Linked DNA regions of Homo sapiens. The protein of the gene in region 2 purifies or fractionates together with the protein of the main gene of each other region. This does not show direct contact. Each region holds a gene or a part of one and is shown on either strand. Other genes may lie near its edges.

What was found. Proteins that work in one complex are often made in the same cells at the same time.
Region 1: the proteins of RAB3GAP2 (region 2) and TMEM63A purify together in Homo sapiens (co-immunoprecipitation; one large-scale study listed by IntAct). This does not show direct contact.

Annotation. Positions count from the first base shown.
Region 1 is NC_000001.11:225,858,381-225,861,880, forward strand, and holds part of TMEM63A (mechanosensitive cation channel TMEM63A), read right to left. Parts: intron 2,618-3,500; coding exon 2,480-2,617; intron 970-2,479; coding exon 816-969; intron 1-815. UniProt on the Homo sapiens protein: Mechanosensitive cation channel with low conductance and high activation threshold. In contrast to TMEM63B, does not show phospholipid scramblase activity. Acts as a regulator of lysosomal morphology by mediating lysosomal mechanosensitivity.
Region 2 is NC_000001.11:220,265,954-220,269,453, forward strand, and holds part of RAB3GAP2 (rab3 GTPase-activating protein non-catalytic subunit), read right to left. Parts: intron 1,763-3,500; exon of another isoform or gene 226-1,762; intron 1-225. UniProt on the Homo sapiens protein: Regulatory subunit of the Rab3 GTPase-activating (Rab3GAP) complex composed of RAB3GAP1 and RAB3GAP2, which has GTPase-activating protein (GAP) activity towards various Rab3 subfamily members (RAB3A, RAB3B, RAB3C and RAB3D), RAB5A and RAB43, and guanine nucleotide exchange factor (GEF) activity towards RAB18.

The DNA of each region.
Region 1 (3,500 bases), 5.6 Mb from region 2:
AGTGGTGCAATCTCGGCTTACTGCAACCTCCACCTCCCGGTTCAAGCGATTCTCCTGCCTCAGCCTCCTGACTATCTGGGATTATAAGCGCCCACCAACACGCCCAGCTAATTTTTGTATTTTCAGTAGAGATGGGGTTGTGCCATGTTGGCCAGGCTAGTCTCGAACTCCTGACCTCAGGTGATCCGCCCACCTTGGCCTCCCAAAATGCTGGGATTACAGGCGTGAGCTACCGTGCCCGGCCCCAAAATAGTTTTATAACAAGGTCATTAGCAACCAAAATGTAAAAGAAATAATTTGTGATCCTGCCACCCCAATCAACGAAGCTTTTTTCCTTCCTTCCTGGCCCCTCCCCGTAGTGTCCATGATAGACATGCCTCACTGGTACATCCCTGCTTCTGTCAGGAGCCCTGCATGGGTGCCACAAAATCTATACAATTTTGAATGGATGCTTGATAGTCTACCAACCTGAATATACCACATTCAACTCAAATGATCCCTACCATTCAGTATTTAGATAGTCTATTAAAATATATATGTATGCATGTGTGTGTATATATACATATAATGTGTGTGTGTGTGTGTGTGTGTGTGTGTGTGTGTGTGTGTGTGTGTGTATGGCATTACTATAAGGACTTTGTAATAAATGTGGCCATGCCTGCTCAGGGCTTAAAAGCAAGGATGTGAGCTGAGCAACATGACCCACTGGTTTAGTTCCCCGCACACACCCCACTCCTGTCCCCACTCCTTCCCCACCCACCAAGCCCTCTTCTCACCAGCTATCCTGGGAGGGGCCTTGCAGAACAGTTACTCACATTCAGCGCATGGATGGGTTTGGTGACATTAAACTTGTCCATGGTGGACAGGATGATGGAGGGTGTGGTCAGGAAAAATAGCCCCAGGAAGAGGGTGAAGTTGATGCCCAGCCACTGTAGCCACCAGCGGAGGCCCTGGATAGAGAGGTTCTTCCTGCAGCGGGAGAGGGGATACAGGTCTCGAGGCTTGTCTCCCAGTGCTCGTGGCTTAGGTGGGTCAGAAGGTCAGATTTAGGCAGACCAAGAGACTAGCCTGGGGGCAAGTTCTCTGCACTGACCTTCAACTACAGAAAGACCAAATCTTAGGTCCCCAAGAGCTCAGAGGGAACAATTATTCTCTCAGATGTGGCTCCCCAGCTAAAGTCTGGGGGCCAGAACCTACCCAAAGAGATGGCATGAGCACCCAAGCAGGCCAAACAAGGCTCCAGCATGGCATTTATTTTTTCTTTTTCTGTTTTTTTTTTTTTGGAGACAGAGTCTTGCTCAGTCACCCAGGCTAGAGTGCAGTGGTGTGATCTCGGCTCACTGCAACCTCTGCCTCCCAGGTTCAAGCAATTCTCCTGCTCAGCCTCCCATGTAGCTGGGACTATAGGCGTGTACCACCACACCCAGCTAATTTTTTTGTATTTTTAGTAGAGACAGGGTTTCACCATGTTACCCAGGGTGGTCTTGAAATCCTGAGCTCAGGCAATCCGCCTGCCTCAGCCTCTCGAAGTGCTGGGATTACAGGTGTGAGCACCACGCCCGGCCCCAGCGTGGCATTTCTTAGACACATCTGCAATGCTTTGTGACTAACGACACATTCTTCCCAACGGGGCTGTAGCTGGGGTACAGGAAGGAGGAAGGCAGGGACAAAGGAGTGAAGGCATAGCTTGCACCTGCCCTGGCCTCTCATCCCAAAGAACAGACCCACAAAGCAATCCTGAGTTTAGGAAGCCTTGTGAACCAAAGAGCAAAACTGTCAGAGGCAGAACTAGAACCGAGCAGAGGGGAGCACTTCAAGCTCATTCTGTGCAAGGAGCTGAGGCAGGGCTGGACAGGCAGCTGCGCTGGGGCTTGCGCTGGGTGCCCTTACCCTCAGCACAGCACTGGAGGCTCACCAGGGCCCCCATGGACACAGCTCAGCTCCCCAGCACGGCCCCAGGCTGACACTGGACCTAAGTAAGGCTGCACAAGCTGCATGCGGCTACTGAGCATTTTAAATGTGGCTGGTGTGAATTGAGAGGTGCTAGAAGTGTAAAATACACACCAGATATTGAAGACTAAGTGTGAAAAAGAGAATGTAAAACATCTCACATTTTTCAAAAATTGCATGTTGAAATAACAGTTTGGATATATTGGGCGAGATACATTATTAAAATTAATTTCAACTGTTTCTTTTTACTTTTTTAGCATGGCTATTAGGAAATTTAAAATTAGATGCAGAACTGGCATTATATTTCTGCTGGGTAGCACTTGAATGCTAGGGAGGAACACTGGAGGGAAGGGCTGGGCAGATACCCCAGTTGGGCCACACCGAGCACATCACAGCATCACAGCCCACAGAATTGCAGATGTGTGGAGATCTCCATTGACTGCCAGGTCACACCTGTGCTCCAGGTGATGGGCAGCTCCCACCAGGAACCCAGGCCTCTCTCCCACCTCTCCTTGGTCTAGGAGCTTACCAGCAGATGTCCTCAGGGTCAGCAGCAAAGGTGACTGTCCACTTGGAGGTATAGAGCTCCCTGCTATGGGAGGACGGCTGGGGCTCACCTTTGCACTGAAGGCTCTGACACTTGCAGGCATTGAAATCTTTCAGGATGCTGCAAGGAAATGTAGCAACAGCCAGGCCCAGGCTACTCAGGTTACCAAGCACACATGTGGCAAGTGGGGACTGAGTAGGAGTGGGAGGCAGTGGCATAGGACCTTTGCTTTGTTGTGATTAGTGTATTATGAGTAACGCTATGTAAGAGGTGCCACGCTAGCACAGTGTGTGGAGAATTTTGTTTAATCCTCGCAACCACCAGCAACAAAGGGAGTACGATTCCCATTTTACAGATAAGGAAACTGAGGGCAACACACTGCTCTTCCATAGGGCCATCCCCCTCCACCCTGCCTGTTAAGCTGGAGCTCTGATCAGTGCTACTGCCAGGCCAGTGGCTCAACTTTTCATTCTGTCACTTTTTCCCCAGGCCCAAGTGTAGCAATAGACCACGTTACACATTGCCTGTTCCCAAGCTTCCCTCCTCAGGGCTCCCACCTCGACCCTCACCATCTCAACAGGTCACAGCTTTTCCTCCTTTAACCTCCCGTAAGGAGCCCAGCAGCCCCTCTACTCCTGCCTCAGATGCCTTCCCCTTTCCTCCTGCCCCAGTGTCTGCAAGGAGGCAGGAAGTCCTGTGTGAGTCCATTCCTAGTGTCACAATGCCTGGGGCAGTGGCTGGACACCTTTCCACACCCCTCTCCCGACCCACCCTGTGCTGCTCCTAAGGCGAGATGACACTGAGACCACAGGCATGAGAGCCTAGAGTCCCATGCCAAGGGCCACTGTGAAAAGCCACTCCCCAGGGTCAAGCTCCCCACTGCAGTGAGCGCCCCAGCGTGCCCCAGGGGTCTTCCCCACAGCTTTGCATTTGTGGGAAGGTGGGGAGCCACAGACAGAAGGATCTGTGGCCCAGAGCAGATGTCTGAAAGGAGGGTGCCTCC
Region 2 (3,500 bases):
GCCACAAAGCAGTAAGACCAGACTTCATGTCTTAAGTAGATAGTATTTACTTTATAAAAACAAAATTTAACAGTTGTCATTAATGTAAACATTGGGAAAGGGTAGGGTTCAGCATCTTTTAAAGCTACAGAGGACAGTCTTCTTTTGTAATTAAATATACAAAGTAACATAAAGTCATACTTTGATAATTCAAATATAGAAGAGAGTGGTATCACTATATCTCTAGCAGCTGTCCACAGTAAAATAAAAGTACTTTTTTTTCTGTACAAATATCTTTATTTTCCTACTTAAAAAGAATCACGTACTCAGTCCAACAGCTTTACCAGGCTTGGCCAACCCAATAAGTTACACACTCACTCAGGTACTTGGAAGGTTATTGGACAGCTCCTTAACCGATCGAGTCAGCACAAAGTGGTCACTTTCCCCATAGCCAGACTCTGGATTTGCCTCCTGGGAGGACACCATGCCTGGCACAGACTGATGGGGTGGCTGCAGTCGAACCTTGCCTCCAGATTATGAACCAGTATAAGTAGCACAATTCTCGTGGCTACTTTCACTTCAGAGTGTCATGTTTATTGATGTGGAGCTTTCTGAGTAGGGAGGTTAAGGCACACCTGCTCAGTAAAACAAATATTTCTTTTAGTGTTCTAGATTGAGGGCAGCAGTCAATGGTAAAATAAATTTTGGTAGCATGTTCCTGAGAGGTTATACAGCAGCCCTGGCTCAAGGATTTCTCCCCCTGCACGATTCCTAAGAATACTTGCTAGTTGATTCTTTGTTTTGGCAATTTGATGGTTTTGATGAATTTGCTGTGATCCAGGGGTATTCAAGTACTTCTCTGAGCATTGGCCTCTGGCTGGGAACATGCTTCAACAGTCTTGAAATGAGGTCCCTGGCTCCCTCTGTTACAAAGTCAGGGAATGTGAATTCTCAACCCGTGATATTCTTTTGTAGGTCTCTTGGTATGTATTTGCCTCAAAAGGAGGCTTCCCAACTAAAAATTCACAGCAAAGAACTCCAAGGCTCCAGAGATCCACCTTCTCATCATGCATCCGACCTTCAATCATTTCGGGGGGCAGGTAGTCCAGGGTGCCACAGAGAGTGGTCCTCCTGGAAGATGGAGCATGTTCTGACCACCCAAAATTTGCAATTTCAAGCTCTCCAGCTGATCCAAGAAGTAAGTTCTCTGGCTTAATGTCTCTATGAATAACTGTTTTTGAATGACAGTAAGACAGGGCACTTGCCAATTCTGTGATATAAGTAGCAGTTCTCTGCTCATCAAACTTTGAAAGTTTCTGAAGTTCTGTATTGACTGTTTCAAGTGGTGTATATTCCAGAATTAGGTAGACTCTGGTGGCATCATGGAAATAACCATACAGTCTGATTATATTAGGATGTTGGAGGTGGGACTGTATTTCTACTTCTCTTCTGAGTTGATGCTCCACTCCTGCTTTCTCCAGCTGAGCTTTAAATAACACCCTAAGAGCCAGAATAAACTTGCTTTGTTTTTCTCTTGCCAAATAAACATTACCAAACTTTCCTTTACCCGGAGGGCGACCAATTTCAAGGTCTTCCAAAGCCCATTGCCTCTTTTTGATTCTTCATTTTTCTGTTTTGATGCCAGTTCCTCCTCAGGATTATTTTCAGGTGCCGACAGCGGGGACTGCTTGCTGTTTTGGGTGTTATTCAGTGGCCTGGAGGCAGGATGAGGTACACTGGTTGCCTGCAATTGCTTCTGCTTCTGATTCTGAACTGGCTTGTGACTGGAGACAAGCTTTTGTGCTTGCAAAGGAACACGCTGCGAAGAATTTGAAGGACACAAGACCCACTGAGCCTGGCCACTATTTGCAGGTAATGGATTCTGACAAGGAAATTGCTGAGTCACGAGAACATGTTCTGGACCTCCAACTGGAGTTTTAGCCTCAACAGGCCCTGAAATGCAGTTTTCTTCAGATTGGTCCGTGATGCCTATGACCCAAGGACCTGAGTCTTCCAAGAGCTCAGCCCAATAAAAGCACTTTTAAACCAACTGATACACCTCTATAATTCACAAGTAATTGAGGTGTTTTATGTTTTTACATATCCTCTAGAGATGAGCTAGGTTAAGAAATTACAACTATATCAGCTAAAAAAATTTAAGATGATCTCATGATTTCTGCTTCCCAATAAACATTTATAACATTAATAAATAAAGTGAAGAAAAGCAAAGGCAAATACCATCAGCAGTTTAAGTCAGGTCCTATTTACCTGCTCTGCTAATGTCATTTTTTCTCTGTAAAATTTCACTGTACAAAAGTTTACGTTCAAAACTCTTTATATTACGGCTTGGCCTAGACTATCTTAAAAGTGCTCAGAACACTTACATTAGCCTATAGTTGGGCAAAATCTTCTAACACAAAGTCTATTTTATCATGAAGGGTTGAAAATATCTCATGTAATTTCTTGAATACAGTACTTCTTGAATACCGTAGAGTACAGTCTCTCATATTTGCTGCTGCTACCCACCATCACAAAAGAGTATCTTACCCATTGTATCACTAGCTCTGGAAAAGATCAAAGTGCAAAATTTGAAGTATGGTTTCTACAAAGTACACATTGCTTTCACATTACTGTAAAGCTAAAAAATTGGAAGCCAAACCATCATAAGTCTGAGATCATCTGTACAGGTTTTACAAAGGGGCTCACTGGTGAAGAGGTCCATTCTGTTCATTTTCTACATGAACTGATCATAGCCACAATAATATCAACATACATAAACTCAAGAATTTGATTTAGAAGAGAAATACATTAAACCATATTTATAAATCTATAGGTATAGTGCAAATTAATCTAGATGTTTGGGGTGTATTTATATCCCCAACTGCCTATGTAACTTGGACAAGTATTCAATCTGTATGTACCTGAGTTTTAGCACCTATAACTGTGCCATACTATATTATAGGCATTAGCCACTTTGGCTACTTAAATTTAAATTAATTAAAATTAACTTGAATTTTAAAAATTCAGTTCCTCAGTTGCACTGGCCACATTTCACAGGCTCAATAACCACATGTGCCTAGAGGTTACCATACTGGACAGTAGAAATATAATGATGAAAATAAACAGGATGATATGATTGAGAACAACAAGTAGGAACAAGGGGGTTGTATTGACTACTTTAGATCTAGATCAGGTGGTCAGAAAAGGCTGCCCTGAGTTGACATTTGAGCTGAGACTTGAATGACAAGATGCAACTAGCATGCAAAGATCTGCAAAAAGCATCCAAGGCATAGACAACAGTGAGGGCAAAAACCTTAGCCACAAATGTGGTTGGCTGGTTTAACAACAAAAAAGAGCGTCTGAAGCATAAGAAATAAGGGGAGAGGTGTATAAGGTCCAAGAAATGGCAGGAAGCAGAGTCTCAAGGGCCTTATACACCATTTAAGAACTTTGGATTTTACGTTAAGTGCAATCAAAAACCATTGAGTGTTATTAAAAGGGCAATGTTAGGCTGGGTGTGG